Homo sapiens: one gene and its partners. The protein of the gene in region 2 interacts with the protein of the main gene of each other region in a biochemical or structural test. Each region holds a gene or a part of one and is shown on either strand. Other genes may lie near its edges.

Region 1 (3,422 bases), on a different chromosome or scaffold from region 2:
GCATGGTCTTGGCTCACTGCAACCTCCGCCTCCTGGGTTCAAGTGATTCTCCTGCCTCAGCCTCCCGAGTAGCTGGGACTTCAGGCGTGTGCCACCACATCTGGCTAATTTTTTTTTTTTTGTACTTGTATTTGTAGTAGAGATGAGGTTTCACTATGTTGGCCAGGCTGATCTCAAACTCCTGACCTCGTGATCTGCCCACCTCGGCCTCCCAAAGTGCTGGGATTACAGGCGTGAGCCACCGCGCCTAGCTATATTATACTTTTATACAACTGGCAGTGTAGTAGATTTGTTTATACCTGTATCCCCACAAACGTGAATAATGCATTGCATTGTGACATGATGATGGTTATGACATCACTTGGTGATAGGAATTTTTCAGCTCCACTGTAATCTTATGGGACCAGTGTTTGTGTGGTCCGTCGCTGACATGTCATTATGTGACACATGACTCTATGGCATCCTGAACTGCAGAAGGGAGTAGGGGCCTAAGGCTTCTAGGGGGTGGTGGTGACACAAGTTATGTGGGGGGATGGGGAGGAAGTGCACTACAGAGTCTCTCAGGTAATAAAAGTTGTCTCAGAGCAGACCTTAGATAAATAATGCATGACAGTCTGTGACAAAGACTGGCATCTAGTCTTCTCTCTTGTGAGACCAGTTCATTTTCCCTGGTTGAGATTCCCAGGAAGGGGATTCATGATGTTCCTTTCAGATGACCTGCCCTTAGAGAAAGAGGGGCAAGAGACAGGAGGGCAGGACATGGTCAGAGAGACCTTGGTTCAAAGCCCTCAGCGTGCCAAACCACCATACTTTGGGGTATTGTTTTCTGAGATCCAATATTACTTAACCTCTCAGAAAAGTGGGAATGGTAACTATAGACTCAGTGGGGTTGTTGAGGTTTAGATGAAAATACATACAGGTGCTCCTTGATATACGATGGAGCCACATCCTGATAAGTGCATCATAAGCTGAAAATATTGCAAGTTGAACCATGGTAAATCGGGGACCGTCTGTGAATACATAGGTCAGAACGGTGTCTGGCACGTAGTCAGGATTTGCAGTTGTTCTCACTCAGCATTGGGTCTTAGTCTGTGGTGGGATAGAGCAGTGAATAAAACAGACCCGATTTGGGCACTGATGTAATTTATAGTCAGGTTAGTAAGGCAGATGTAGATTAATTTCACATGTACACATTTAATTGCAATTATAAGTGCTAGAGAAGAAAAGCATGAGATGCTGAGAGAATGGGTAACAGGGTTTCTAACCTAACAGTTATGTGGCCCTGGGTACGTGACTTTCCCTTTCAGATCTTGAACTCCTTCATCTAGAAAATGGGAATATTGGCACAGCTTTGCAGGGTGTGACAGCTGGTGTTGTGGAGATGGCATGCTAATATGCTGGTAACAGGGTGCCTGATGCTCACTTAAGATGCTACATGAATGGGAGCTACTGCTGTGTGTGTTGATGAAATTCTCGTCCTCATTAGCAGGTTGTGAGCAGGATACAAGATATTTCTTCTTGCCCCGTATTCTCCTGAGCCCTGCTCAGTGTGTTTGTATAACAAAGGTGTCCATCCTAACAATATGGCTCACCGGTTTTCACCCTGTACTGTACCTGGTGTTTTGATTTAGAACCGAGTTAGGTAGCTGAAAATACAGCGTGAGCTTTTTAATGGGGAGTTGGTTGACTCCAGGTGTGATCCTAAATCTAGAAGGAATTTGGCCAGATGTTCATGAATTTCTGGAGTCCCATGAGGAATGTTGCCCAGCCTCATCTGCCTCTTATCTGGTCCTGCTCTGTGTTAGGGGCCTGAGTGCCCTGGGGTTGGAACACTATGAGCTAGAAAATGCTGATGGACTGTTCCACTTACGAGCAAGTAGTGAGCACTAGGCATAAACAAGCTGAGCTCTGAGGTTTTTCAACTAAACCTAGCCGAACTGCAGTTGCCCAGAAAGCTCAGGTGAGAAGGGGGGGCTGGCATTGCTTTATTCATTCATCCCACCAGTGAAAAATGCCAGGCACTGAGGGAGGCACTGGGGGTAGTGTGCAGGTCAGCCTAGGGAAAACAAACAGGAGCCTGCGGTGTGATAAATACTAATTAGAGAAGGCCTGGTTGTTTGGGAATCTGTTATTAGGGATCAGTGTTCAGACTAAAGGAGGAAAAGCCTTCTCACAGTTGCCTCTTATCTTTCTCCTCAGAGCATAGCGGCCTGACCACAGGGGTGGCCTTCGGGCATCACGCCAAGTTCATCGCTTCAACAGGCATGGACAGAAGCCTCAAGTTCTACAGCCTGTAGGCCCTGGCCCTTCTGATGGAAGCTGGGCCTCATCTCAGTAGAGGGGTAGAATTAGGGTTTGGGGGGGGGGGTGGGGGGAATCTATGGGGGGAGGGGGCTCTGTGGGGTGGGACATTCACATCATTTCACTCTGGTCTGAGTGGTGGCCTGAGAACCATGGTGGCATGGACCACCCTCATCCATGCAACTCCAGGCCCCATGGGAACGGATGTGGAAGGAAGAACTGTCACCCTCTTAAGGCCCAGGGTCGGAGCCCAGGGCCTCTCCCTTCCTGTCGTTCAATGGACGTGGTGGTGGCTGTTCCACACCCATTTTGTTGCAGTTCCTGTGAGACAGGAGAGGCTGAGCCAAGGGAACTGTGAAGGGGATGGGCAGGAGGGCTTGTGCAGGGTTTTGTAAGCAGTGATCTAGTTTCATTAAAAAAAGAAAACAATAACCATAACCACCTCCCCGTGTCTGTCTGCACCAGGAGCACCTGGGACTGGGAAGGTCAAGGGGAGGGAGCACACACTGGGACACTGGCTTCCGGGAAGCCCATCTTCCTTTCCTTTCACAGCTCTTACCCTTTTTTTTTTTTTTTAATTGCACAGCAGAAATAAAAACAAATCTGCAGATGAAATTTGCCATGTCCCTGCGGTTCTTGACCTTGTGTCTAAAGGCCTCAAGTCACTAGTCCTGCCACTTGCCTTGTAGACTTGGTTTCCTACACAAGCCTGGAAGGGAGGGAGACCTGCAGGGAAGATTAGCTGGATCTTGCTGGTGGGGAGGTCTGAGCATCTCCATCAGGGTTCTTTAGTTGTAGGCTTTCTAGCCTGTCCTCAGCTGGCATAAGTCAAAAAGGAGATTTTTTTATTGACTCTGGCGATTGAAAAGCTGTGGTAGGACTGGTTTCGGGACAAAGATCTGATAATGAATGTGCCTTATAGGGAATTCCTGTAGGGTCACGTGACTGCTTTAGATTGCAGGTCAGGAAAGGCCTCTGAAGTGGTGGTGATGAAGCTGAAGCTGGAATGAGAGGGACCTGAGAGGGGAGGAGTGTTGGCAGGCAGAGAGCAGGTTCTAGGGCTGGACTGAGCGAGATATATGGAGGAACAGGAAGGAGGTCATGGTGGCAAAGTCGGGGGA
Region 2 (3,652 bases):
GGCTAAAATTTCTTGTCCACTTGTAAATTTTGGCTGACAGAAAAGCAAAAGTGAAAATCAGATCACAAGCAACTTGCAAACATGACTTACTCTGACATTTTTGGCAATGGCTCCGAATGTGAAGTGGTTTGTCACTGAGAGGGCACTGTGGAGGGAGCCGGTGAATCACCCCGTGGCAGCACCTTCCTCGTGGGCTCTGGGCGTGTCCCTCAGTATTCAACTTTTTTTGTTTTTATTGTCAGAATAAATTAAACTCGTCATTGCCGTTTTGTTCTGTTCTGTTTCTCAGTTGAGGCTAATGCAGCATGATTATGGGATCGGCTAGCTGAAATTCTCATTCTTCAGCGGGGCCAGTGACTTCAGTGTGTGACTGTAAAATGCGGGTTCCTGGGATGTCCGTAGCCCTCTCTGGACCCTGTTTGTGCAAGGGCCACTGCTCTCAAGATGTCACTTTGGTGCTAGGGTGGCCTGTGTTCTATCCCAGTGTCACTTGGGTGCTGGGGTGGCCTGTGTTCAATCCCGCAGCCCTAACCTGCCCACGTGCTTCTGCAGGGTGAAATCCGAGCTACAGCTTTCAATGAGCAAGTGGACAAGTTCTTTCCTCTTATTGAAGTGAACAAGGTATGGCCGTGCTGACTTTAGAACTGACACCGCCTGGGGGTGGAGTGCGGATGAAAAGACGCTGGCCCAGGGGAGGGGTGTGTGGTGGCAGACTAGGGGTTTCTGTCCGATTTGATGGTAGTCTCAGGTTCTGTGGCTTGGCCTCCTTCGCAGGTGTATTATTTCTCGAAAGGCACCCTGAAGATTGCTAACAAGCAGTTCACAGCTGTTAAAAATGACTACGAGATGACCTTCAATAACGAGACTTCCGTCATGCCCTGTGAGGACGACCATCATTTACCTACGGTTCAGTTTGATTTCACGGGGATTGATGACCTCGAGAACAAGTCGAAAGACTCACTTGTAGGTAAGCTCGTGTATGAGAAGGAAGAGCAGGGATGACTAGCTTTCTTTGCAGTGTACGGGGTGGTGTCAGGCTTCAGTGCTTGCCGTTCATCATTTGCTGGCGTCGGAATGGGAGTCTTGACCACCTCCTGCTAACACGTGCATGTGTTTTAGACATCATCGGGATCTGCAAGAGCTATGAAGACGCCACTAAAATCACAGTGAGGTCTAACAACAGAGAAGTTGCCAAGAGGAATATCTACTTGATGGACACATCCGGGAAGGTGGTGACTGCTACACTGTGGGGGGAAGATGTAAGTGCTGGGATGGGGTCTTCAACACGCACAGGACCTCCTGGGGTTGGGGCGTGGTCTTGTCCTATAGGATGGGGCCTTCAGCACACACAGGAGGAGCTCCTGGAGTTGGGGGAGGGAGTGGTCTTATCCTATAGGATGGGGCCTTCAGCACACACAGGAGGAGCTCCAGGAGTTGGCGGAGGGGGCATCTTGTCCTATAGGATGGGGCCTTCAGCACACACAGGAGGAGCTCCTGGAGTTGAGGGAGGGAGGGGTCTTGTCCTATAGGATGGGGCCTTCAGCACACACAGGAGGAGCTCCTGGAGCTGGCGGAGGGGGCGTCTGTTCCTATAGGATGGGGCCTTCAGCACACACAGGAGGAGCTCCTGGGGTTGGGGGAGGGAGGGGTCTTGTCCTATAGGATGGGGCCTTCAGCACACACAGGAGGAGCTCCTGGGGTTGGCGGAGGGGGCGTCTTGTCCTATAGGATGGGGCTGTTAGCACACACAGGAGGAGCTCCTCGTGGGGGCGGTTTTGTCCTATGAGTTGGGGGCTTTCACCATGTAGATGGGAAGGATTGTGCTGTCTGGTAAGTATTTAAAATCCTTTATCTTACTTCTGTGAGATTTGCTGTGATTCAAGCTTTACGCGGGGAAATGCTCTTTCCCCTAACTCTAGGAAAGCAGTGATAGTTTTGATGTGTCTCTGAGTAGATTCTCATGTGTGAGGTCTGTCTTGTATGGATTCCATGTACGCTGATTACATTCACTCTACTATTGAATGTTTGCCTTGTTTTCTATAAAAATCTTCTGTGTTCTTCCTGCTAGTGACACTTGTATATGTCTGGTGTTTCTTTTACAGGCTGATAAATTTGATGGTTCTAGACAGCCCGTGTTGGCTATCAAAGGAGCCCGAGTCTCTGATTTCGGTGGACGGAGCCTCTCCGTGCTGTCTTCAAGCACTATCATTGCGAATCCTGACATCCCAGAGGCCTATAAGCTTCGTGGATGGTAGGTTTTGTGGGGCTAAACAAAGGGTTACTTGAGGCTGGGCTTTGAGAAAAGCTGGTTACAATCAGCATGGGAGCTTTCTGCCAAGCAGAAGCCTTCGTCCCTGAGTGGTGCAGCTTCCGTGTTTCTTGAAGGCATTATGCCTTCTGTGAGGAGGGCTTTAAAGCCCTTAAACGGACAAACCTGTAATCCCAGGACAAACCTAGAGAGTCGGAGGAGGCAATTAGCATGTAAGTGCTGCCTGCTGACCTCGATCCTGCCAAAGGAGGGGACGGCCAGGCTTCAGCAGCGGTGTGCTGAAGGCGCCTTTCTTTCCAGGGTTTAGGCTCTGGGCCTCTGTGGCGTGGGGGAACACATGCTTTCTTTCTCTGTCAAGTCTTTGGTGCCGATCACATCTTCTAGTGTGTATTCACTAGACTCTGATCAAGTGTGGTGAGAACAATGGGCTTTTTGTTAGGATTAGATTGTTATTCCCAAAGCACTCAAGGGATGAGGAGAGCCTGTTAAAATCTCCTCACTGTATCTAGCTTTTTAGGACATTCAAACTCTGTCTTAAAAGAGTACTTCAAACTGAGACACAGGATGCAAGAATTGATGTGGTCAGGGAAAACACTTTCACCCAAGCTTCAATAATTCCCATAGCTGTAGTCTATGGGGGGGAAGTGTGTCAGTTTCCAGCTGTGTCTTAGGATTTAAGCAGCTAAAGAATGAGCTCATTTTACATACTCCTCCTTTGTTTTGAGTCATTTAAACCAATGGCACTGGTGTTTGACCAGTTTCATGAAGCATCTTCTGGAATGTTCATGTCACTGAGCCATCCTCATGAGTAGTACGGTCCACACGTATCTGCCGAACTGCAGGGCCCGTTCATAGTCTGACCAGAACTAGCCACAGATTTGCTTTTTTCTTATTGCTTGATTTTCTTTTAGGCTCTGGAGTTCGACTCCAGGTTAATTGCATTCCCACATTAAAATCGCATTCCCACATTAAAATTGCATTCCCACATTAATGTCTTCATCTTTTACTTGTCAATAATCATGATCCCAGTCAACATAAAAAGCACGGCTGTCCCCAGAATAAAATAACTTGGCATTGATCAAAGACAAGCTCAGTGCATACATGATACCTGGACAAGGATTAGAGATGTTTAGATCTTGGCTATAACAATGCAGAGTTTTTATTGTAAGAAGGGCCGCCTTGACTCCTGACGAGTGATCTTTGGTGGCAAATGTCTCCTTGGAGCTTTTGAAACCGTGAACTTGTGTAGCTAGTAGTGGTGAAACAGATGGATGGGCCTTGCTGTGCCCCTGTGAGGGATTTAGCCGCTTACCTGACAGGAGAAGGCAGCTGTCTGCAGCTCAGGGTAACATCCATTCTGTTAGATGGTCTCTGTTTAAGGAA
Region 3 (3,652 bases), on a different chromosome or scaffold from region 2:
CAACATCTTTTCCCTACTTCTCTTTATTGTCACTATCTTAGTTTCCTGACCAGCTAATGCTTACTCTTCATAAAATCAAGTTTAAACTTCTTAACCTTCTGAAATAGGATCTTAATTTTTTTTTTTTTTTTGAGATGGAGACAAAATCTTGCTCTGTTGCCCAGGCTGGAGAGCAGTGGTACAATCTTGGCTCATGGCAACCTTGGCCTCCTGGGCTCAAGCGATTCTCCCGCCTCCACCTCCCAAGTAGCTGCCACTACAGGCACAGCCCACGTCTGGCTAATTTTTATATTATTTGTAGAGATAGGGTCTTGCCATGTTGCCCAGGCTGGTCTCAAACTCCTGAGCTCAAGCGATCCACCCACCGTGGCCTCCCAAAGTGCTGGGATTACAGGTGTGAGCTATCATGCCCAGTTTGATGTATCTTTTTAAGGGTCATCTCCTACAACTTTTCTACACAAACTCTAAACCAGTTAAATGACCTTGCTTATTTATTGTCTTTTCCTTCTAACTTATGCCTTCCCATCCTCTGTTCATCCCATTCTATACAGTTAAATGCTTTTAATTTCCTTCCTTCCCAAATTTAGCATTCTTCAGAAGTCTGGTCCAAAATCTTTTCTCCATAAAGTATTCCATGATCACTCTAGGGTGAAATTACCCCTTTCTATTCCTTAAACAGCTAACCCATTTCCTCTGTGACATTCATTTTATATATCAGGCATGTTTTTGGACATCTATTATCTCCACTCATTCAAGCATTTATTGTTTACTGAGAGCCAAACACTGCCTTAGGCACTAGCAATACAGCAGAAAACATGCAGTGGCACGATCCCAGTCACTGGAGCCTCGACCTCTTGGGCTCAAGAGATTCTACCACCTCAGCCTCCTGAGTAGCTAGGACCACAGGTACACATCATCATGCTGGGCTAATATTTTTAATTGTCTGTTTTTGTTTGTTTGTTTTTAGAAATGGCATCTCAGAAACAGGGTCTCACTATGTTGCCCAGGCTGGTCTCAAATTCCTGGTCTCAAGCAATCCTCCCACTTTGGCTTCCCAAAGTACTGGGATTACAGGCATGAAACACCATGCTGGCCTCTTATGAAGTTTTAAGAACATCATCTCTGAAGTCTGGTTTGAGTCCAGTATTTGCTACTTAAATACAATGTATTGGGCAATTATTTAACCTACTGTGTCTATTTCCAAATCTTCCCACCAATAGGAGCATAAGTAAAGGAAAAAGAAACTGAAGGGGTCCAGGGAAGGTTTTTTCCTAATGGAGGAGACACTAGACATATTTGTATACTGATGAGGATAATCTCATAGAGAGGTACAAGAGAAAATGGAAGGAGTAGAGTCCTTGAGAAGGTGGCAGGAGATGGTAACCAAATCATATTGATAGAATGGGCCTTTGAGAAGAAAAGGGACACTTTCTCAATTGTAACCTGAGATAAGAAAAGATGGGCACAAATGTAGATTTGATGCAAAGAGCAGGTTAGGTTTTTGGCTAAGAATGAGAGTTGAAGAGGAGCATAAAGTTCTGATAACAGAAGACGAAGTATGAGATATGAGATGCCTGTCTAACTCAGTGGGAAAGTACACCTAAATGGAGAAAGTAGACTGCCAAGAAGTTTTGAATGTTAATCTAAAGTTTTGTCATCTTGAATTTTTTTCCTTTTTTCATTCTTTTTTTTTTTTTTTTTTTTTTTGAGACAGAGTCTCGCTTCTTTGACCAGGCTGGAATGCAATGGTGCGATCTCAGCTCCCTGCAACCTCTGCCCCCCGGGTTCAAGCGATTCTCCTGCCTCAGTCTCCCAAGTAACTGGGATTACAGGCACGTGCCAACACGCCCAGCTAATTTTTGTATTTTTAGTAGAGACAGGGTTTCACCATGTTGGCCAGGCTGGTCTTGAACTCCTGATCTTTTTTTTTTCTTCTTCTTTTTTTTTTTTTTTTTTTTTTTTTTTTTGAGACAGAGTCTCGCTCTGTCGCCCAGGCTGGAGTGCAGTGGCGCAATCTCGGCTCACTGCAAGCTGTGCCTCCCGGGTTCACGCCATTCTCCTGCCTCAGCCTCCCAAGTAGCTGGGACTACAGGCACCCGCCACCACGCCCAACTAATTTTTTGTATTTTTAGTAGAGATGGGGTTTCACTGTGTTAGCCAGGATGGTCTCAATCTCCTGACCTTGTGATCCGCCCACCTCGGCCTCCCAAAGTGCTGGGATTACAGGCGTGAGTCACCGCGCCCAGCCAAACTCTTGATCTCAAGTGATCCACCCGCCTCGGCCTCCCAAAGTACTGGGATTACAGGCGTGAGCCACCGTGCCTGGCCTGTCATCTTGAATTTAAAGTGAAGTCAGTCAGCTGTATGATACGATTTTTCTCCAGTATAATCAGCTATTTGGGTACAGACACTGAGAAGATAGATGAGTTTCATCTAAGGTTGGCATCTCTTCAAGTGGGTATGTAAACTGAGGCTATCTGCAAGAGAATTACTTTAATGATGAATCATAAAATCTAGACTAATGAAGAAGATGGAGGGCTGGGCGCAGTGGCTTACGCCTATAATTCCAGCACTTGGGAGGCCAAGGTGGGTGGATCACTTGAGATCAGGAGTTCAAGAGGAGCCTGGCCAACATGGTGAAACCCCCTCTCTACTAAAAACACAAAAATTAGCCGGGCATGCTGGTGGGCGCCTGTAATCCCAGGTACTCGGGAGGTTGATGAAGGAGAATCACTTGAACCAGAGAGGAGGTTGCAGTGAGCTGAGATCACACCACTGTACTTCAGCCTGGGCGACACAGCGAGATTCTGCCTCAAAAAAAAAAAAAAAAAAAAAAAGTAGCAAGTAAAGCCAGGAAAAGGCCTGGTAGCAAAAGTATTTGAAATTAACGTATCTGATAGGAGATCAATGATTTGGAAGTTTCTATGACATGGAAGGATTTTGAAGTAGGAGTCTATCTTCTAACTATTAACAGCTATAAGATTCTTGAGGACAGAGAAAGTACCTTTTATGGCCATCCTAACAGATGCTTGCAAATAGCAGGAATGAAGTAATGCTTGCTTATTTGATTAGCTATAGCCCCAACAGCTCACCTGGCAGGTGACAGCTAGCGTATGACAGATCTGGGTCTTCCCAGTTCGGAATTCTCCAAACATTTCTGTGATAGATCCAGTCTCAATTCCACCTAAAAAAGCGATAAGAAATAACTCTTAGCATAATACAAACATGTAGAAACTGTAGTCATAGAAATGTTCTTGGAGCTCATCAGAAAGATGTTTATGTAAGTTAAAAATTCAATTTCCAACAAGCGATAATTTTTCACAAATGTATTTTGAGGCTAGCCGTGGTGGCTCATGCCTGTAATCCCAGCACTTTAGGAAGCTTAGGTGGGTGGATTGCTTGAGTTCAGGAGTTCGAGACCAGCCTGGGCAACATGGTGAAGCCCTGTCTCTACAAAAATTAGCCGGGCATGGTGGCGGATGCCTGTAGTACCAGCTACTCAGGAGCTAAGGTGAGAGGATCACTTGAGCCTGGGAGGCAGAAGTTGCAGTGAGCCAAAATCGTGCCAGTGCACTCTAGCCTGGGTGACACAGTGAGACCCTGTTTCAAAACAAACAAACAAACAAACAAATAAACCAAAAGTATTTTGAAA

What was found.
Region 1: the proteins of RPA1 (region 2) and PRPF19 form a complex in vitro, tested with the Homo sapiens proteins (2 studies listed by BioGRID, with this or other methods).
Region 3: the proteins of RPA1 (region 2) and RAD51 form a complex in vitro, tested with the Homo sapiens proteins (2 studies listed by BioGRID).

What each region holds. Positions count from the first base shown.
Region 1 is NC_000011.10:60,890,041-60,893,462, reverse strand, and holds the end of PRPF19 (pre-mRNA-processing factor 19), read left to right. Parts: intron 1-2,199; coding exon 2,200-2,297; 3' UTR 2,298-2,916; downstream 2,917-3,422. UniProt on the Homo sapiens protein: Ubiquitin-protein ligase which is a core component of several complexes mainly involved pre-mRNA splicing and DNA repair. Required for pre-mRNA splicing as component of the spliceosome.
Region 2 is NC_000017.11:1,878,441-1,882,092, forward strand, and holds part of RPA1 (replication protein A 70 kDa DNA-binding subunit), read left to right. Parts: intron 1-552; coding exon 553-621; intron 622-774; coding exon 775-967; intron 968-1,119; coding exon 1,120-1,259; intron 1,260-2,102; coding exon 2,103-2,251; intron 2,252-3,652. UniProt on the Homo sapiens protein: As part of the heterotrimeric replication protein A complex (RPA/RP-A), binds and stabilizes single-stranded DNA intermediates that form during DNA replication or upon DNA stress.
Region 3 is NC_000015.10:40,708,557-40,712,208, reverse strand, and holds part of RAD51 (DNA repair protein RAD51 homolog 1), read right to left. Parts: intron 3,185-3,652; coding exon 3,093-3,184; intron 1-3,092.